Homo sapiens: one gene and its partners. The protein of the gene in region 1 interacts with the protein of each later gene in a pairwise test. Each region holds a gene or a part of one and is shown on either strand. Other genes may lie near its edges.

Region 1 (7,347 bases):
CTAGCCACAACACATTTTAAAATTTCTTGAGGAAAACTCTCATGTTTAAACTTGTAGCTGCTATATTATTTCAACAGGAGTGACATATCCACCAGGTACTAATAATTAAAAAGTACCAGGTACCGGCACACACCCCCCCCCCCACTCTACCCATACCATTAGGATAGTTGTGTTTTCCTATTCTGAAGTAGTTCAACTTTTATACATTTAGACTATAAACTTTAATTTATTTAGATATTATAGGCCACATCTTAGTGGCCTTACTTTACATCTTAGTAAAAAAAAAAAATTTTTTTTCAACTGAAGTTAAGTTTTACCTTGTTACCAGATTCAGAAGAAGATGTTGTTGAAACTCCTGCAGTGTCTCATGATGAACATACACACCAAGAGATAAAGGGCCGAAAAACACTGGCAACTCCTGCAGTTCGCCGTCTGGCAATGGAAAACAATGTAAGTTCTCTTAATATTTAAGTCTGAGATTGTATAGGAAGTGTACATTTGTATCTCTGAAAAATTAGCCAACTATCCCATGATGAAATAGCTCAATGAAATTAAGGAAACATGAAGATATTTGCTACTGAAAAGCAATAGTTGCATAAAAATACATGGGAGAAATGAGAAGTTGTAAACTTATTACTTACTATCAATTGAGCAGTATGATTTTATTATTCTTTCTTAGAGCCTAATAACAGTAAGAGCTACCATTTACTGAGCACTTGTAAATACCAGGTCTTATGTCAGGTGCTCTAGAGGCACAGCATGAGATAGGAATTTGAAGGAGGGAAAACCTGTAAAGGGACTGAAGGAAGCAAGATAAAAAAGAGAAGAGAAGGGAAATTGGCCAGACATGGTTATGGTATCAAGCATCTGGCCTGTCCCAAAGCTTGCCATGGTCCTAAGTAAAAAAAGAAAGACTCTGGCCTGATCTGAGGGTGCAAGGGAGAACCACAGAATTACTGCTTTGAGGCAAGGAGGCCGGCCTTTTGTATTTCCTCTGCCAGTCATTGACTGAATGGAAGGTGGAATGCCAGGCAGGGTGGCTCCCTGGCACTGGGATAGGTATTTACGTATTCTCATTTAACCCTGTAAGATAAGGAGCTATTTTAAGACTTGGAGGGTTTAAGTAACTAGTCTAAAGTCACACAGCTAACATAGCAAGAGCCAGAATTCAAAAGTGAGTCTATATCACTCCAAAACCTGTGCTGTTAGATGTTATATAAACCTCAACAATCATTGCCTCCATTATTTGAGCACATATGTGCCAGACACTATAGACACATCTGTAATCCTCACAAGGACCCTGCAGGCAGGTTGATTAACTTATCTAAAACCAAGTAAGCTGAACTAGGGATTTGAACACAAATCTGTCTGGTTCTGAAACCTGAATACTTTCCACTGTGCCCCACAATGAGACTTTTTGTTTGTCTCTTTTTGAGAAAAGTAAGGTTGCTGTGGGAAAAAAATAAAAGTTTATATTTTGTGAAATATGTAATAGAGTCATTAAAATGTTCATATTCTTTCAGCCAGTTATCCTGCCACTGGGGAACTATCCCAAGAAAATAATCTAGGAATCATTCTTCCTTGTATTTTATATAGCCAAAAATTAGAAGATGCATACACATTCAAATTATGTTATGTATCCTTGATAAAATGTTATGTAACCCTTAAATGTGTTTAAGTATGAAGACCATTTAGCATAACAGAAAATAGATATAGTAACGTGGAACATTAGGTTATTAAGGGCATCAGATGAAATAATGATTTAACATTTTGCTTTGAAATCTATAAAGCATTTTAATAATTTTTTTCTTAATAATATAGAAAGAAATATATAGAAGAAATGTATGATTTGGCTTTCCTAAAACACTCCCTAAAGATGGGTATAGAATACTTGGGTAGAGTGCTTGTATGATTACTAAAAATTAAATATTGGATTTAGTTATCAGAAATCATCTTTTTTCTTTGAATTTGCATATTTATGAATTGAGTTTGTTTAAAATTAAGAACCAGTGGCATTTACAGTTGTTTGTAACTGCCTAAAAATTATTTGTTTAAATTTTCATAGTCCATTTGTTACAAACTTAGTGTTTGCCTTAGTAAAGTCCTTTATTATTTTAGTCATCCTTAGAGATGCACTAATACAAATGAAATGGGGCCTATCCCTAAGAAATTAATACATACTATATATGAGGAGATCATTCCAAGCTTTTATGTTTATTTTTATTTAAATAGAATTAAATGTTTTGTACTGATCTTTCCAAAGCAACTACCAGAAAAATAACTAATTTGAGAGAGCTTTTGTATTATGATTATTTAAGTTGTTACGTTTTTAACTGGTAGCCAGTGTCAGAAACATTGGTCTAAATTTGGTATAGCATTTAGTTTCTCTTAAATTCTCAGCTCTCCCTCTTCTTATGTAGTCCCCAAGAATAGAAAAGGTCGAGTAAGAATTATGCAAGAGATTTTAAAATACTTGAGTATAAAAATGTAAGTTTTCAGCTGGGCATAGTGGCTCACGCCTGTAATTCCAGCACTTTTGGGAGGCTGAGGTGAGAGGATAGCTTGAGGCTAGGAGTTCAAGACCAGCCAGGGCAACAGAGTGAGACCCTGTCTCTACAAAAAATTTTTTTAAAAAGTAAGTTTTCATAAATAGCTCTAGATTATATATAATATAGATACCTGATGGTTACCACATGCATATGTGAACAGTATATACAAAAGTAATGATTACTTAAGTAGAAAATGAAAAGGTTATTTCCTTTTACTAATTTATTGGACAGATATATTTTACTGTCAGTTGATCAAATTCCATTTTGAAACTTTAATGATGTTTTTAAATAGTTGTATTTTTGGCATTAAAATATATCATTTTTTAGATTAAGCTGAGTGAAGTTGTTGGCTCAGGAAAAGATGGCAGAATACTTAAAGAAGATATCCTCAACTATTTGGAAAAGCAGACAGGAGCTATATTGCCTCCTTCACCCAAAGTTGAAATTATGCCACCTCCACCAAAGCCAAAAGACATGACTGTTCCTATACTAGTATCAAAACCTCCGGTATTCACAGGCAAAGACAAAACAGAACCCATAAAAGGTAATGATAATAATAACAATACTATAAGGCAATAGTTCATTTATTTTGGGGGAAGCTACCTCAGTAGATAAATGTATATAATATGGTGTTTTCAAGTCTTACTGAAGGGAAAGTTCAACTTCAGTCAGCATATAATTTTTCTTTTCTTTTCTTTTTTTTTGAGATGGAGTTTTGTTCTTGTTGTCCAGACTGTAGTGCAGTGGCACGATCTTGGCTCACTGCAGCCTCCGCCTCCCAGGTTCAAGCAATTCTCCTGCCTCAGCCTCCTGAGTATCTGGGATTACAGGTGCACGCCACCATGCTCAGCTAATTTTTTGTATTTTTAGTAGAGACAGGGTTTCATCATGTTGGCCAGGCTGGTCTCGAACTCCTGACCTCAGGTGATCCACCCTCCTCAGCCTCCCACAGTGCAGGGATTACAGGCGTGAGCCACTGCGCCTGGCCATAATTTTTAAATGGTGAAATAGCATAGCTTTTCCAGGAAACACTTACAATTTATGTGTATCATTATCTTCTGAAGAGTAATACGTTAGCAGGTTTCTTGAAATATAAACTTGTATATTGATAATTGCTCTGTTTGAAGACACACAGGACATTTTAAACATTCACTATTTGTAGTTAGCTTTCAAAATAACTAGTTCTGATTTGTTATTTATAAACTCCTGGAATGATTAACTTCCAGAAGAGTGGCTTTGCAGGAAAGCTGTTAGGGAAATACATGGCTTGCATTCTTTTGAATTTTTTATATAACACAGCATTTAAAGCAGTTACCTGCTATGTTATTGCATTTGCCACTGAGTGTCATGATGCAGTCAGTGTTCCAGCTTTGAAATTAGTGACTTTCAGTGTAATGTAATGAAGAGAGTAGTAAGAGGAAGGGTTTAACTGAGAGAGTAAAAGACATTAGAGAACCTTCCATTTTAGTTTCTTTAAAAAAAAAAAAAAGGATGAAGAGATTTGAGAATTTAAATAAATGAATAACAATTTAATGCTTTTCAGGCTTTCAAAAAGCAATGGTCAAGACTATGTCTGCAGCCCTGAAGATACCTCATTTTGGTTATTGTGATGAGATTGACCTTACTGAACTGGTTAAGCTCCGAGAAGAATTAAAACCCATTGCATTTGCTCGTGGAATTAAACTCTCCTTTATGCCTTTCTTCTTAAAGGTGAGATTCATTCATTTCAAACAAGGCTTGAGTAGGACATTTATTTGTTTGTTTGTCTTTTTGAGACAGAGTTTTGCTCTTGTCACCCAGGCTGGAGTGCAATGGCACAATCTCGGCTCACTGCAACCTCCACCTTCCGGGTTTAAACAATTCTCTTGCCTTAGCCTCCTGAGTAGCTGGGAATACAGGCACCTGCCACCACGCCTGGCTAATTTTGTATTTTTAGTAGACACGTGGTTTCGCCATGTTGGTCAGGCTGGTCTTGAACTCCTGACCTCAGGTGATCCACCCCCGCCCCAGCCTCCCAAAGTGCTGGAATTCCAGGCGTGAGCCACCATACCTGGCCCCAAGTAGGACATTTAAATTTTGCTTTGCCAACATGCAATATGTTGACTGTGGCCTTGAATAAAAATATTACTTTTCGCAACATCAGATAGTTAGAAAATGTGCCATTTCTTTGTTCAATAGGAAATTATAAAATTGAGATTTCTGTACTATATTTTTAGCTGCTTATCTTTGAGCTAGGTAGAGACAATTCTGCCAGTTAAGTAAAGCCTCTGATCCTAAAAGGATCACTCCAACCAAGTCTTGGTTTGAACTAAAATGAGACTTGATATTAATTTTGCAATATCACTGACATATATTTAATATTTATTTTCATTTACTCAACCAACTTATATTGAGGATCCTGGGAATCATTTCTAGTGCTAAGCCTTGGGACCAGTATAAAATGGAGTAAGACCATCAGCTAACCTTGAGCAGCATACAGTCTAGCTCACATTAGTGACTGTGCAGCAGCTACCATGTGCCAGCCTCCATAGTAAGCATGCTGTATACATTATCTCTCTCTTTTTTTTTTTTTTTTTTGGTATGAATCTCATTTATTGAAAAGATTATTTCTCACCTTTCTCAAATTGAAGACTGCAAAAAATAAAAGCAGTGCTTCATTGAGTTGTCATGAGCCTGGGGCAGGAGCAGCAGCGCTGCCTCTCCACGCTCCGGGAAACCGCAGCTGGCGTGTGCCACATCGGTCCCACCTCGCTTTACAAAACAGTCCTGAAGCTTAATCAAATAAAACTATTGAACACAACATTTACATTAGAAAAAGAGAGCTGGGTGTAGGAAAGGCCGAGCCTGGTGTTCCCTTTAAGCGAAGGTGGCTCCACAGTTGGGGCATCTTCGCTCCCTCAAGGCAAAACAGCAAATGAACCCAAAGGGGAACAGGATGATGGCCAGGAAGATGCCCAGGAAGGTGAAGCAGTCCTGCAGCCCCCCGACCCTGCAGACGGGACAGCCTCCCACGACCACGATAGAGTTGGTAGGATAGCGGATGACGGTCCAGCTGTGGATGTTGTAGACCCTGGGATGGTGGGTGGGTGTCCGTGTGACGAGGTAGGAGTAGGGCGGCTGCGGGGGCGCGGCGGGGATGGCGCCGTAGCCGTGCGGGCCTCACGCGTAGTCGCCCTGGCCGGCCTCCAGGTTGTAGGCGGGCGGCCGCTCCTGCAGCAGAGTCTTGTGGTCCATGGCGGCCCGGCTCGGCTCTGTCGGCCCCGGCGGGGACGCGGCGCACGCCCCGGGTGGCTCGGGCCCCTCTGAGGCAGACGCGGGGCAGGGCCCATTATCTCTTAATTCTCAGAGTAACCCTGACATGTAAATATTACTGTCTCCACTTTCCATTTAAGGAAATTGGGGCTCAGAGAGGTTGAGAAACTTGTTAAGGACTTACAGCTAACAGGTGGAGAAGCTCTTTCAGGTTCTGGTCTGTTTTACTCAGAAGGACATACTGATGTCTGTAATGCCAACATGTCCAGTCCTTTCTCTACACTGCACCAAGACTGGTCTTCCGTAAATCAAATTACTGTAATATTCTCTGATTCTTTTCAGTGGTTCCCTTTCATTACCTTCAGGATAATTTGTATGCCATACTCCTTAGTGTGGCATACAAATGTGTTATAAGTCTCTGCTGCCTGCCTCTCCATTCTTACCTCACTCCCTCATATTAAGGTACCCATAATTGCTGGAATACACAATTCCACCTGAAGTGCCCGTTCTTCTCGATCAAACACCTGCAAATCCCAAACTGTGGTCAGGTACAGACTCCTTCTGTGGCTGTCACTATTTGAATTAAATACTTTTGTTTCCCACTGTTAACTTATCTCAGTGCATTGAGTGCTTACTCAGTTTTCTCTTCACTTACTCACTTACTGGGCGCTGAGCCTCATGAGGCAGAAACTATTCTTCTTTATCTCCCTTTTTCTTTCTTTCTTCTTTTTTTTTTTAGAAAGGGTTCACTTTGTTGCCCAGGCTGCTGGAGTGCAGTGGCACAATCACAGCTCACTGCAACCTTGAACTCCTGGGTTCAAGTGATCCTCTGCCTCAGCCTCCCGAGAAGCTGGAACCACAGGTGTGCACCACCACACCTGGCTAATTTTTTTTTATTCTTAGTAGAGATGTGTCTCGCAGTGCTGCCCAGGCTGGTCTTACAGGGATGAGCCAGCATGCCTGGCTATTTTGTTTTAAAATAAAACATAAGTTTCAGAACATTCGAAAAAATACTACACAGTATTGTAGAGGGGGAACAAATGACCTAATCCATTGACACATACCTTGTATTTTCTTGGACAAAATTTGGATTATACTCAAATATTTTTATATGTAACAGTTTAGACTAACCTTAGGGGTTTTTAGATAAAGACTATTAAAATTACAGTTATTGAATCAAATGCTTACTAAAACTTTCAAGTTGGCTGGGCGCAGTGTCTCACGACTGTAATCCCAACACTTTAGGAGGCCAAGGCAGGCAGATTGCTTGAGCTCAGGAGTTCAAGACCAGCCTGGGCAACATGGTGAAACCCCATCTCTACAAAAAATACAAAAGTTACCTGGGCATGGTGGCACACGCCTATAGTTCCAGCTACTCGGGAGGCTGAGGCAGGAGGGTCACTCGAGCCAAGGACGTTGAGGCTACAGTGAGCTGAGATCATGCCACTGCACTGCAGCCTAGGTGACAAAGAAAGACCCTGTCTCAAAAACAAACAAGAAAAACTTCCAAGTCATAAAAATTAAGGAACTCGTAGCAGTTCTTTTA
Region 2 (7,427 bases), on another chromosome or scaffold:
TTAATCTGCTGAAACATCAGATATCTAAGTGCTGTGACATAACAGGAAACCGAAAAGAGATGACTATCTTTAGCCAGTGGTGTTTTTCAACTACTACAGTTTTTTTCTGCCCAGTATACCTAGCAAGGAGTGGAGGAGGGATGAGGGGTAGCAGATAAAGAGCCAATTAAAGAAAACTTCATTTTGAAAATTGACATAAAAAACTTTATGTGGATATTTAAACTAGAGAGAGGATATGAAGAAGAAATATAAAATTGACTCACTGTTAAATCTTGGACTTCTTTCTCCAGTTTAACAGCTTTTACCCTTAAGGCTCGTTCAGCAAGAGGGGGCCCAAGCTCATCAGGAGGGTCCTCAGAACGGCAGTCCTCACCAGCAGTTCTCTGGGTGGCAGTGCTGAATGGAAGCGGCCATCCCCTAAAACAGGAAGGAGGTGGCACATAATGAAGAAATGCCATCATAAGCCAAAATTACAACCAAGTTTAGAGACCAGAGATCTTCCCAGATGGAATCTCTGGAGAAAGTGTTTTCAGTTATAGTAACAAATGAACACTTACGAAGTCCTTACCATGTACCAGACACTGTTTTACTTGAGTCATCTTTTCCTCTCACAACAATATGTGAGATAAGTCCTATCATTATCCCTATTTTACAGATGAGAAAACTGATGCTGAGAGGCTTAAGGCATAATGGCCTGCTCAAGATCACATAGTTGGTATTCCGCTGGGTCAGGACACTAAGAACCAGGCAGCAGAAATAGCCAGAACTGGGTATACAAAAGTCAGCATAAGGAAACCAAATGCTAGTACCCAGAACCAGAGGAGCATTGTCAGAAGTGGGCATTCAAAAAGTCATATAGTTCTGGTTCAACCTTCTAACTTACAGATGAGGGAAATTAAGTCCAGTAAAGGGACCTTAAGGCTTAGAATTCTAAGCCTTCCTCACCACAACCTGTAAGGCTTTTAGGAGACCTGTGCTGAGAAAGAAATTCCCACCTATAAATAAGATCAAGTCAATGAAATACTTATACAATACTATATGTTACTGCCGGTGAATAGACACAGGTGAAAATAGATCTTTGCATTCAACTAGTTATGTAATCTAGAATTTTGTACAGCTAAACTGTTTTGACATTTAGTTCAGTTTACACAGAAATAAATTTAGACTAGGGGCTAGTTTACAGCAAATCTTGGGCTGTGGCAGTCCTGACCTGGCCCAGTTCAAGGAAGTTTCCACTGCAACTCCTGGATCTTCGTAATTTGACTGTAAGTAAAATTATCTTGAAAATCAATCTGTGAGTACATGAGTTCTTTAAAACAATTTTTATGGACTGGCATATACTGTAGAGTGGTCCTCACGGAGACAGCTGAGCAAAGGCTTAAAGAGGGTAAAGGAGTCAGCTTTAGAAAAGGGAAGAGCATCCTGGGCAGAGCAAATAGCTAGTTTAAAGGTGTAAGCAAGAGGACTTTTATCTCTCCTACTTTCCAAGCTGATCTTAAATTCAATTATTATAATCCGGTGTGTGATTTTATAGACAGTTCCACATTTTGGGGTCAGAAAATATGGTCACCGTAGATCTGGGGCTAATTACACACGGTGAAACATCTTCTCCCTAAAAAAACCACATTTATCCACTTGAAAAAGCAGGTCAAAATATTCTCAGGGGCCGGGCGCGGTGGCTCACGCCTGTAATCCCAGCACTTTGGGAGGCCGAGGCGTGCGGATCACGAGGTCAGGAGATCGAGACCACGGTGAAACCCCGTCTCTACTAAAAATACAAAAAATTAGCTGGGCGTAGTGGCGGGCGCCTGTAGTCCCAGCTACTCGGGAGGCTGAGGCAGGAGAATGGCGTGAACCCGGGAGGCGGAGCTTGCAGTGAGCCGAGATTGTGCCACTGCACTCCAGCCTGGGCGACAGAGTGAGACTCCGTCTCAAAAAAAAAAAAAAAAAAAAAAAAAAAAAAAAAAAAAAAATTCTCAGGGCCAGTTCAAAGGGAAAATGGCCAAAGCTTAGACCAAGAAATAGGGTTGGGGAGTTGTGGCCAATCTCAATTCCTACTGCTTCAGAACTGGAGTAGGGAGACAGCTTACCAGAAGGAACCATTTTTCTTCTGGTCATTTCCTTACATCACCAACAAGCTGCCAAAAAGACTTGAGAACGGTAAGCAAAACCAAGTCCCGAAACCCTGAATGCAACCTCTCACTTAGGTGCTAGGGTAGGATGTTGGGTCAGGTGTGTTAAGGTAAAAAGGGTGACATATGTAGTTAAGCACATTTACCAGATTCTCCCGTAGCTTACTTTACTATTCAGAGGTCCAACCCTACCTCGTACTCAACTATTTTTATTCTCTATCCCAGGAAGAAACAGTGTAGGGGCAACAGTCTCTGAGAAAATTAATTAACATCGCTCATTAAATAAGAGCGCCGATTCCAACGCCCTGACTGGTTTCCAGCCCGGGTTCCACCACTTCCCAAATATTTAAGTTTGGAAGTTACTCAACTTTTCTAAACCTCACTTTCCTTAACTACTAAATGGGTAATAATAAAAAGAACCACCCATAATTCTGCAGTCGGCCTCGTAAGCGACCAATAAAAGCTGCCGATGGAACTTGTCTTCCGAAGGCTGATGCAATGGCCGTTTGGAGAAACAAGTTCAGCGGCCTCCTTTTACTGACAGGTACAACAGTGCCCGGATAACGGAGAAAGGACTGGCCTTAGGTCACACGGAGTGAGGGGAGAGAACCCAAATTTACCCACAGGTACCACAGGCTGGGAGAAGAGGCCGGGAGAGTGGTACATCCCTCCCTTGGGGGCTTAAGAGACTTCTCACCTTCCAGGCCATGCATGACCTCGGATCTCCTTACCTTCCTCGGCCTAAGAAAGAGGCACGGCTGATGGCCTCAGTTTCCCCGTCTGTAAAATGGGGCCGTGAGTGCACGGTCGTAGAGGCCGAGAAGCTTGGTCCCCTGGCCTACGCTCAGATAGCTCTCGCCTTCCAGCCCACAACCACCCCGGCTGGCTCGCTAGCCCCTCAGAGTCCTCACGCTCCCGACTCCCCGCCTGCAATGCTTACTTGCTCTCCCACGCGGCACTCCAGGCCAGTAGGCGCTGCACCCGCAGCCGGCCCGCCCACAGCGACCGTACGGCCATGTTTCCAATTTGGGCTGAGAGGCAGCGCACGCGCACTTGCTGCGAGTGAAGAGATGCTCCCGCTTAAAAACCAGCCTTTGCGGGCGTTTCCCTCTCAGGACTTCCGGACAGGAACGCTATGCTTCCGGTTGCCCGATGGGCCGCGCCGTTCCCCATCCGGTCGTCCGGAGCTAAGGCAACACTTCCGGCTCTCAGTGTGTTCCGCGGGTAGGCGAGGTCCTAGTAGTAACTACAGTCTCCGTGCTGGGCGCAGGGTCGGCAGCAAAGAAAGCAGATCATAGCTGTGCCCGCATGGAGCTTACTTGATATTATGAGCGATAAACAGATACAAGCGGGATGTAAAGTCAGAATATGAGCGGTGTTTGAAGGTGAGGGGCAGGTGTCGCGGAAGCCTAGAATAGAAATCTAGCCTTGTGGAAAGTTTTCCCAGAGGAAGGGGGTATTTGAGCTGAGCTGAAGAAAGGGTTCAGGCAGAGGGAAACATCTGCAGAAGCCTAATAAAGAGAGAAGAGTATTGCATGTAAGGGACTGAAATATACTGAGGCGGGAGGGCAACAGGACTGGTGGTTAGGAAGGGCTAGATCACGTGAGCGGTTTAAAACATCGCAGCCTGAACCATTGCCCATCACTCCTCCCAGTCTTTTTCTCTAATGCCCTTCTTATCGACTGAATTGTTTTTTTAAATAGTGTGTATTTTCTCATTTCCTCTCACTAAAATATAAGCTCTTTTAAGGCAGAGATATTGTCTATTCATTCCCATTGAGCAGTGCCCTAATGTAGGTGTTCAAAATTATTTTTTTTGAGATGGAGTCTCACTCTGTCACCCAGGCTGGAGTGCAGTGGCACGATCTCGGCTCACTGCAACCTCTGCCTCCCAGGTTCAAGTGATTCTCCTGCCTCAGCCTCCTCAGTAGCTGGGATTACAGGCGCCCACTACACCCGGCTAATTTTTGTATTTTTAGTAGAGACAGGGTTTCACCATGTTGGTTAGGCTGGGCTTGAACTCCTGACCTCAGGTGATCTGCCTTCCTCAGCCTTCCAAAGTGCTGGGATTACAGGCATGAGCCACCGCCCCCGGCTTCAAAAAACTTTTTTGCTGAATGCAATTTAGTCTGATTCTGATTGCAATGGAATGTGAAAATAAATAAAACCTAAAAGCTGTTGGAACCTCCCAAATACTTGAAGCTTTGAGAGAGATGTGGCTGTGGTCTGAGTCCATGTAGCATGTTTTGTAGTTCTGCTTCTTAGAATTATAGCTTAATTCTCTTCCTCATTGTTCTTGTTCTGTAATGACTAGGAAAGAGCAGAGACCAGATTTCTTCCCTCTCAATTACTGATGTTTGTAATAGACAGCCTCCTTTATTGTCCTGCACCTAACTCAGACTAGATGGTGCCCTGAACTGAACTGACCCCATGACAGTTACATCTGCAGGATGTGATGTTAAATGTACCTTTCTTGAAGGAAAAAGACCACCTTAACTACTCAGATCATTGTAACTGTGCATTAAGCCTTGCATAGAAAGATGTTGAAATTCTGTTAAACCTCACTGAACCCAACCTTTCACACTTTGGAACACTGACTTCCATCTTTTTTAAGACAGACATATTTTTCCATTCTGTGCTTCCTGGGCAGGCCATCCTCAACCTTTGTGCTTGAATAAACTCTCTTTAAACTAGATTCTGACCTTTTAAATTATTTTAGATTGACAGGGAACATGTGACAAAGGCTTTCATGTTTAAAGAGTCACTTTGACTGCTGTGTGAAGCAGATTGCAAGGTGTAAGAAAAGAGGTAGGGAAGGCAATATGTTGCAGTAGCCCAGGCAAGATGGGGCTATATTCTGTCCTGGAAGAACAGAGAGAGACCTTCCTAACCACTGTAAAGTAACTGTGTCCAGCACCCTTTTAGTTTCTTAGTATTTTATTTCTTTTGCTTCCTTGTTAAGGTTTTTTCCTCCAACTAGAATGTGAGCTTCATGAGGTGTCTGTCTTGTTCACCACTGATTTCTGACATCTAGTATAGTAGGTACTCAAGTATTTGTTGAATGACTTAATTAAGTTGGATAGTGTCAGTGAAGATAGGAAGATATGGATGAATTTTAGAGATTTAGGATGGAAAGCTGACAGACTGAGAGGATGGATTGGTGACTGGGGTCCAGGGCACTTGGAGTTGCCAGCTTAGTTACTGGATAGTCCCTTAATTTTTTTTTTTAAGGGAATGGGAAGTGTTCCTTGAGCACTCTGAATCTTGTCATAACATGGGTTATTTGTACTGTAGTTATTTGGGTCACATTTTCTTTCCTGCTTGTCTCTGAGTTCCATGAGGACAGAGCTGGAGTATTTTCATCTTTTTATCTAATCCGAGGTCCAACTCAAATGTGTCATGACCAATAACTTATATTTTCTTTTTGGCCTTATGAAAAGGGTGATATGGTTTAGGGAGGTATTATGATTCTCTTTTACATATGAGAAAATTGAGGCTCAGAAAGGTTGGTAAACCTATGCAAGATCCCGCAATAAGGAAACAGTGACAGTAGAATTCTGACAGACTGAACACTTGGCAGTGTTGGGCTTAGACCTGTGGCTTACACTTTGAAAAAACACAACCAAATAAGGCATTTTTTTTTTTTTGAGATGGAGTCTTGCTATTGCCCAGGCTGGAGTGCAGTGGTGCGATCTCGGCTCACTGCAACCTCCACCTCCCGGGTTCAAGTGATTCTCCTCCCTCAGCCTCCCAAGTAGCTGGGACTACCGGCATGTGCCACCGTGCCCAGCTAACTTTTGTATTTTTGATAGAGATGGGGTTTTGCCATGTTGGCCAGGCTGGTCTTGAACTCCTGACCTCAAGTGATCCACCCGCTTCGGCCTCCCAAAGTGCTGGGATTACAGGCATGAGCCACCATACCTGGCCTAAACAAGGCATTTTAACAACCAAGAACAAGTGGCATCTGTGCCTTAGCCATTTTGCTTACATTTCTCCTAGCTGCCTAACGTTCACCAGGTTGCTGCTTGCATCCATGCATTCATTCGTCTATTTATTAAGTGCTAGTGTGCTTCTGAATGTTGCAGTACAAGGGGAGGGAGATATATGGATGACATAGAGCTTTAAAATTAAGAATAAGGCTCTAGGGTCAGACTTCTTATATTCACATGCTGGCTCCACCAGCATGTAAATATAAGAACTATGGGAGCTTGGACAAGTTACCTGACCTCTGTGAGCTTCCATTTCCTGAACTGTGAAAACTAGGGCAATATAACTTATCTCAGGGTTTCAGTGAAAACTAAAGGGATAATACCTAGAAAAGTGGTTAGTTAGCACCAGGACTGGCTATCTAATTTAAAGGGCAAAAGGAAAAGCAGAACTCCTTGTTCAAATATGATTAAGAAGGCAATAGTAGAGCATTAAACCAAGAACAGGGCCCTTCTAAGCATGGGGCCCTGTGTGACTGCACAGGTTGCATGCCTGTGAAGCTGGCCATGGCTGACACAGTGCCTGACATATGGTGAGTGCTTGATAAATGTTAATTATTAATTACCCCCAGCCACTCCTCTGAGAGTTCATCTGTTGGTGAGAAAAGACACTTAACCCCAAAATAACTGCATAAGAAAGAGTATGACAGACACTGAAGACATAGTTGGAGAGTTAGGTGACATTTCAGGATCCACGTTTTAAAAAAGAACACTGAAAAGTAATTTCCTCTTCAGTGGAAAGAACACAGGCTTGTGAGTCAGACATTTCTGATATAGCTAATAATAGCCACTTTTTTTTTTTAATAGATGGGGTCTTGCTATTTGCTTAGGCTGGAGTGCAGTGGCAATTCACAGGCGTGATCATAGTGCACTACAGTCTCAAACTCCTGGGCTCAAGCGGTCCTCCTGCCTCAGCCTCCTGAGTAGCTGGGACTACAGGCGAGTACCACCATGCCTGGCTAATGAGAGCCACTATTGACTGAGCATTTCTTATTTCTCAGACACTATGCAAGATGCCTACTATATATTATCTTATTAAATCTTCCCAACAATCTTGGGAGAAAAGTAACAATTGTTAGTCCCATTTCACAGATAAGGAAAACAAGAATCAGAGCAATCAAGTGACTTTCCCAAGGTCACCCAGCTGGTCATTAGAGGCATGGCTCAAACCTAGCCCTATCTGGATCTGGGCTTATAACCCCTAAGTCCTACGCTCTGCCACTAATCAGTGGGTGATTACTGGTCAGGTTATTTTTCCTGCTGTGGTCTCCAGCTACCTCAGAGGGTGATAAAGTTTGAGTGAGGCTAA
Region 3 (7,381 bases), on another chromosome or scaffold:
CTAAACAGGGATGGCCAAAGAAAGGGTAGTAGTTGACAAAAGATTTTGGTTCCATCTCTTCTCCCTTTTAGTCAGAGCAACTCTGAGCTCTTATTTTATATACAGCTCTGATTATTACTTTTACTCTAAGACAGGGTTCTTCAGATTTAAGAAGTCTGCAAACTGCTTAGCATGGCACTTGGCACTCAAATCATTTAATGAATGAATGAAAACCAAAGGGACATGATTTCTAAGGTTCCTTACAACTCTGACCTTCTATAGTTCTATGGCTGCTTAATATGAATTACAGTCAAGTGGTCTCCTCTGCCTGTTTGCAAAGGTACTGAGACTTCTGCTTGTTCCTTTATTCTGGGTACAAATGTATTCCCAAGGCTGATTCTAGAGAATAATTCCCTAGAGCTACTAGGTACAAGGATTCAAATAGTTGGAAATGGGAGAACGTCTTTGGCAGATAGGAAAAAAACAGGTATATGGATTAAAGGATACCCAAGTCTGTGTCCTTGCAGTAGCAGAGTCCAAATGTAAAAAAAGTGACAAGATAACAGGCTAACAACATCTTATCTCTCCGAAGACACGATGTAAGTAAAAGGGTCTAAGTATATCCCACACCCCTTGAAAATTCTTCTTGACATCATCACCACAAAACATCCCAATATTGTAGGTAAAAAACTAAGGTAACTTAGACTTACTCGGTAATTTTGGGGTCCAGGTTGCCAATCCATAATCGGTGTCCTTCCTGCAGAGAGCCCTCTGAAAGGATGGATGCATTCTCCAGGGGAAGAGTTTTGGTTTCTGCTTCCATCAATGTCTATGAAATACTAAAGGAAATGTGAACATTCAGGCAGGAGGGGAGTAACAATGTGTGAACACAAGACTTCAAATTCAACTCAACAAACATTTATTCAAGGAGGGCATGCCCTCTGGGCAGTCCTTCAAAGGCCTCAGTGATTCCACAACCAGGGCCCCAGAACCAGTTCCCTTGGGACAACTGCTCTGGCAGCCAGGGCACACAAGCTGCCATTTAAGGTGAAAGGGGCGTGGTTCTGTGTGGAGAAACTAAAGTTTTCCTCCTCTGAAGCCAGAGGCTGACTGGGCAGGAGGCCAAAGTCTCTATTACTACATGATACTTCAGTTCAACAACTGTCACCCAAAATAAGCCTTGGAAACCACCAGGAAGAGTCTTAATGGCATTAAAAGGGATGGGTAGGGAAGAGCAGCACTCCATCCCTTTTCCTCATGGAAGAGGCAATATAGCAAAGAGAAGAGGCAATATAGCAAAGAGAAGAGGCAATATAAGAAATCTGTGCGTAGACAGAACTGGGTTTGAAAGCAGGTTGTGTGACTTGATGAACTACCTGAACTTTCTAGGCCTCAGTTTCCTCATTATCTAGAGAGATAATAGTGCTTATTTTATAGAGTTGTTGTGAAGATTAAAGACAGTAAAAAAATCACTAAATACTGTATCTAACAACAGTAAGTAATCAATAAATACTAGCTATTATCATGCTTACTCTTTTGGGACAGACCAGGAAGAAGAGACTAATTTCCTCCTTAGTTATTCAAGTTCCACCATTTGCTAGCTATGTAGCCCTGTGCAAGTTACTTAACAGCTGTTGGCCTCAGTTCCCTCATCTGTAAAATGGGGATAATGCCTCATGAAATTACAGTGCAGATTCACTGAGTTAATACACCTAGAGCATTTAGAACCGTGCATGGCACCTAGGAAGCATTCAATTAATGTTAGCTTAAATTATTACTAGTCTTAGTTCCTGAAATGTCTCATCTCACAGCCAAGGAGAAAAGAGGATTATGATTATGATGGAGACAGCAGTAGAAAGAGCAGAAACCTTGGTGTCAGAAGACATTGTTTCAAATTGTGGCATTTCTTTCTTTCTCTTTTTTTTTGTTTTTGAGACAGACTCTCGCTCTGTTGCCCAGACTCATGGGCGGTGGCACGATCTCGGCTCACTACAACTTCCACTTCCCGGGTTCAAGCAATTCTCATGCCTCAGCCTCCCGAGTAGCTGGGATTACAGGTGCATGCCACTAAGCCTGTCTAATTTTTGTATTTTCTTGTAGAGGCAGGGTTTCACTATGTTGGCCAGGCTGGTCTCCAACTCCTGACCCCAAGTGATCCATCCACGTCGGCCTCTCAAAGTGCTGGGATTACAGGTGTGAGCCACCATGCCCAGCACAAACTGTGGCATTTCCACTGGAAGTTATTTCTTTCTGAGCTTCAGTTTACCCATCTTTAATAAATTTTGCCCTGTTTATAACTTAAGGCTTCGAGGACCAAAAATGAGACGACAGATGTGAAATAAAGCTTTAGGGGCTGGGAGGACAGCAGGCTGTGTCAGAGTTCAGAAGTCCCTGCTAGAGAACACATATCCTATACCCAGAAGTACCTCAGAGGTCAGCACTACAGGAACCATGGAGGCAGTCACAACAACTGCCATTACCTCTTAATCATCTCAGCACACCCTGTAAAGTCTAGCACAGCAGTCCCTAGGTAATTGTTTATTGAATACCCTGCACATGAGGGTATTTTTCTTCCTTTCCCATTCACATCTTTAATCTGTTCAGCAATGTAAGTCAAGCAACTAGGAACTGTTAAACTCTGGGCTATGTACTGAAATAGACAAATGAAAAAGCCACAGCTCTTGTTCTTACCTCCTGGGAGAAAGGTGAAACAGACATAAATTTAATCCCAGGGGAGACACATTTTTGTCTTCCCTCTGCTTTCCTTTCCCCCTACTTTTTAAACAAATCATTCATTCAAAAAATAAATTCACTGCTTCTATTATCTAGGACTTATCCAGTTACTGGAGTCAGAGCAGTGAACAAGCAAGGTCCCTATCCTCTGGATGCTTGTATTTGGAAGGGGAGCAGGACAAAACAAAAGCAAAATAAATAAAGAAGATATAATTAGTGATACATGCCACAAACACAATTAAGCAGGGTGATGTGACAGGGACTCGACGACTATAGATTGAGTGGAGGGAAGGCCTCTCTAAAGGAGATGACATTTGGGACTTGAATGATAGGACATTCTGATTTTCTCATGTCTAAAATCAGGAATAATACCAATAGCTATTAATATTTATTACCACGAAAAGGTACCATGTTTTACTGGTAAGAGTGCAGGCTATGCGGGTCTGGGTTCAAATCCTGACTTTTGCACCTAGTAACTGCACCTTTAGCAAGTCACATGACCTTTCTTTAAGCATCCTCTCGATAGAAAAGCTTTCCTAAACAGAGTTCCTTGTTATTCTATATCATAGCCACTTTTCCATCTTTTTCCTCCTACTAAATGCTAATTCAATGTATTACTTAATGTTTCCTCTTCTATTTCCTTCACTAGAACGTAAGCTCCCACAGCACAGGACCTTGCCAATCTTGATCACGGTTCTATTTCTAGCACTTAAGTACACTGCCTGTCTCACGGTTGGTGCTTAATATTTACTAAATGAAGCAAGCCGCTTCTCCACTCGAAGACTTAGTTTCTTTTTCCTTCCTAGAATGGGTACAATTTGTCGTCTCACGAGGTCGTTGTGAGTCTTAAATAAGACAATTTTGGTGACAGCTCAGAATATGGCTTTTTGAGGAAAGGTAAAGGGTAATAAAAGATCAAGACGGCACGGGACTATCAAAATGCTTTGCGTTTGCAATAGCAACAATCCTTTAGACTACCAGAGTTCACAAAACGCGGTTACATTTGTCTTTCCAGCTGAGCTGCAATAACTCTGGAAGCCAGAAATAGTCATCTGGGGAAAGTGCAATCCAGAGAAGAAGAGACACCTGATCCTAACAGCAAGCGGTGGGGTCATGCCTGGAACCCTGGCTTCCCGATTTCTGGCTGCGAATTCCTACAGGCGAAGGGTCATTACTCGGATTGTTATTTCCGGGCCAGCGACAGGACAATCCGGGGCGGGGCCTGAGATGCAGTCCTGCGAGGGCGGCCTCCTGTAAGACCTCTTAGCGGGCCCATCGCTGAGGTGCAGGGACATGTCGCGGCCGAACTCACCTCGTGGCCTCGGCGTGGTGCTCTCAGCTCATGCCCGGAAACCAGGTCCCGACGCCGCGGTCAGACGGACCTCTAGACGCGTCCGCCTCAATGCCGCCAGCTGCCAGGCCGCCCGTGACGCGTTAAGCCTGCGCCGCCTCCTGGCTTCGTGACGTCACGACGTCCGCGCAGCTGCGGTCGCCGCCGTCGCACGAGTCTTTCCTTAGTAACCTGGGCGATAGCTGGTGAGTGTCCTTGACAGGGCCTCGAGGGGCGCGTGTGGTCTGGGTGCCAGAGACCCTTACTCAGGGACCTCTGGGGGACCTCAGGGGACCAGACTACCGTCCCCGACCCGTTCGAGTCCAGCTTGACCTTTAAGGCTGAGGGCGGGACCTGTGGCATTGGAGCGAGTCTCATGGGGTGGGGGCGGGGCTCCTTTTACCAGCTAGGAATTTAGGGGATGCTGGAGGAACTTACTAAAGAGTAGCCGCACACTTGACGGGAACGTTTGAGTTTCAGAACAATCCCATAGGAGTAGATATTATTATCTCCCATAATGAAGAAACGGAAGCTCACATAGGTAATTTTACCAGGGTCACGCGGTCAGAAAGTGAGGGCGCTTAAATTCAGACCTAGGGCTATCCGACTCCTAAGCCTGGACTTTTAACCACCACTCTGTGCCACCCAGTGGCAAAACAGTTGTCATTTCAGTAGCCCTTCTCCATTTACTTAACCCTGACAAATAGTATTGTCATTTACGTTTTACAGATGAGACGGAAGTCCTGAGAGTTTGACCGATTTAAGGTCACGTGCCTAGGAAGTGCTGGAACCAAGACTCGGAGTTTTCTCTAAGTTTAGTGCCTTTATTTTGTTTTAAACCACACTGTTGCATTTCCCCCCATTTTGGAAAGCTTTATAGTTGGAAAGAATGAAAACCTGATCTGACCCCTTCATTTTATGGTTGAAACAAAATCTACGTAGGAGAAATCACTTGGTACAAGTCACAAGTCAGTGGTAGAGCTGCCGCAAATGCTTTTTGAATACGTGTGATTATGAATCTAAATGGCAGATGGCAGGGAGTGATAAGGTAGGCATACTGGAATCCAGATCTCTTAACTCTTAGGCAAAAGCCCTTTCTCTACCTGTTAAAGTGTCTCATTCCTTCTTTGGCCGTGCCAGGTGCATAATGATTCTGTGTATAGTCAGATACTACAAGTACCTTTCTTTACCTGGTACTGCATTTAGAGAAGAACATCATCTACTATCTCTAAGCAAAAATCTGGCAAACCAGAGACAGTGGAGGCAACGCTGGGAAGCCCAGAACCTACCATAATAGTAAGGGTAGATTCCCATCCGATTCTGGTTTACCCTGGATAAGGAATTTATCTTTCTGGACTTTCACTGATGTATTCATCACATTCACAGTGTCTTCTGTGTTCTGGCAATGTACCAGGTACTGGGGATACAGCAGTGAACAAGAAAATCATAGATTAGTCCTTGTAGTACTTAGAGTCATATGGAGGGAATTAGACAATCAAATAATTACACAAATGTTAGCTTGTATTGTTAAGAATTAAGTGCTATGATGAAGTAAAGGGTGCTATGAAAGCAGACTACAGGACACTTGACCTAGTTGGGCTGTAGGAGATGGCCAAGGAAGCCGTCCTCTGAGGAAGTGATGGTTAAGCTGAAATCTGAAATAAAAACGGAGACAAACAGTTAAAGAGGTGAGGGAAGATCATCAAGGAGATTCAATGGCATGTTTGAAGACCCTGGAGCAGGGGGAGCCCTGGAGAAGTGAAAGATCACTTTTCTTATTTTGCAAAATACGGGTGGTGATTATCACTCTTTAGTTATGAGAACCAGTTAAGATGGTACATGTGAAAGTATTTTATATGCAAGAGCCTGCGTATATGCACACTCATAGAAGTGCTTATGTTATAAGCTAGTATACAGCTGCATTGAAAAGAGTTGCTGGGACAGTAGATAAGCCAGGATTTTGGGTTGGTCATCTAGCCAAAATTAAAATGAACCTTCTGTGAAGAACAGGGAAATCGTTTGAGACCCTCAACTTTGGAAAAAGAATGTGTGCTTCAAGTAGTTTAAAAAAATATTTCAGTCTGTAATCTCAGCACATTGGGAGGCCCAGGCGGGCGGATCACGAGGTCAGGGGGTCGAGACCATCCTGGCTAACACGGTGAAACCCCGTCTACTAAAAATACAAAAATTAGCTGGGTGTGGTGGCGCACGCCTGTAATCCCAGCTATTTGGGAGGTTGAGTTAGGAGAATGGCTTGAACCCTGGAGGCGGAGGTTGCAGTGAGCCAAGATTGCGCCACTGCACTCCAGCCTGGGCGACAGAGTGAGACTCCGTCTCAAAAAAAAAAAAAAAGAAAAAAAATTCAGGCCGGCGCAGTGGCTCACGCCGGTAATCCCAGCACTTTGGGAGGCCGAGGCGGGCAGATCACCTGAGGTAAGGAGTTTGAGACCAGCCTGGCCAACATGGTGAAACCCCATCTCTACTTAAAATATATAAAAGTTAACTGGGTGTGGTGGTGGGTGCCTGTAGTCCCACCTACTCAGGAGGCTGAGGCAGGAGAATCCCCTGAACCTGGAAGGCATAGGTTGCAGTGAGCTGAGAACGTGCCACTGCTCTCCAGCCTGGGCAACAGAGTGAGACTCTGTCTCAAAAAAAAAAAAAAAAAAATTTAATAGTTGGGATGCTATTATAATAGCTACAATTTATTGTGTACCTACTGGATGCCAGGCATTGTACTGTGTGTATGTGTTTTGTTAAGTGACTAGGTCTCACTATATTGCCAAGGCTGGCCTTGGACTCCTGGCCTGAAGTGATCCTCCTTCCTTAGCATCCCAAGTAACTGGGACTATAGGCACCCATCACTGTTCCCAGCCATGCTGAGTGTTCTATATGCATTGTATAGCAGTTAATAACATAGACTCTAGAGCTAGATTGACTGAATTCAAATCTTGGGCAGATTTTTGCTTCTGTTTTCTTATCTGTAAAGTGGGAATAATCATAGTACTTACTTCAGGGTTATCATGAGGCTGAAATGAGTTCATGTGCATAAACCACTTAGAATAGTTTCTGTCACGTAGTCATTGTTATATAAATGTTAGGTATTGTCATTATTGTTATCTTTTAAAGTCTCATTAATATCACTATGATGATGATGTGGAAGCTGTAGCTCAGAGAGGCTAAATGACCTCCCCAAGGTCACACAGCTAGTAAGTGGGGGAATTGAGATTCCAGTTCCAGACTGCGTCCAAAGCTCAGACACTTCCCCACATTGCTTCTATGTATAGGTTAATTTTGTTGGCTCATACTTGGGATCTCAACAAATTTTTCTTCAACTTTAAT

Evidence for each region.
Region 2: the proteins of DBT (region 1) and GRPEL2 interact in binary tests that used the Homo sapiens proteins (3 or more experiments, as listed by UniProt).
Region 3: the proteins of DBT (region 1) and MRRF interact in binary tests that used the Homo sapiens proteins (3 or more experiments, as listed by UniProt).

The regions. Positions count from the first base shown.
Region 1 is NC_000001.11:100,211,729-100,219,075, reverse strand, and holds part of DBT (lipoamide acyltransferase component of branched-chain alpha-keto acid dehydrogenase complex, mitochondrial isoform 1 precursor), read left to right. Parts: intron 1-328; coding exon 329-450; intron 451-2,876; coding exon 2,877-3,093; intron 3,094-4,092; coding exon 4,093-4,259; intron 4,260-5,125; exon of another isoform or gene 5,126-5,853; intron 5,854-7,347. UniProt on the Homo sapiens protein: The branched-chain alpha-keto dehydrogenase complex catalyzes the overall conversion of alpha-keto acids to acyl-CoA and CO(2).
Region 2 is NC_000005.10:149,341,262-149,348,688, reverse strand, and holds the start of GRPEL2 (grpE protein homolog 2, mitochondrial precursor), read right to left. Parts: upstream 3,191-7,427; 5' UTR 3,150-3,190; coding exon 3,073-3,149; intron 574-3,072; exon of another isoform or gene 418-573; coding exon 264-417; intron 1-263. UniProt on the Homo sapiens protein: Essential component of the PAM complex, a complex required for the translocation of transit peptide-containing proteins from the inner membrane into the mitochondrial matrix in an ATP-dependent manner.
Region 3 is NC_000009.12:122,260,691-122,268,071, forward strand, and holds the start of MRRF (ribosome-recycling factor, mitochondrial isoform 1 precursor), read left to right. Parts: upstream 1-4,191; 5' UTR 4,192-4,248; exon of another isoform or gene 4,249-4,583; intron 4,584-4,771; exon of another isoform or gene 4,772-5,055; coding exon of another isoform or gene 5,056-5,090; intron 5,091-7,381. Other genes in the region: RBM18 (probable RNA-binding protein 18), read right to left, coding at 690-802. UniProt on the Homo sapiens protein: Responsible for the disassembly of ribosomes from messenger RNA at the termination of mitochondrial protein biosynthesis. Acts in collaboration with GFM2. Promotes mitochondrial ribosome recycling by dissolution of intersubunit contacts.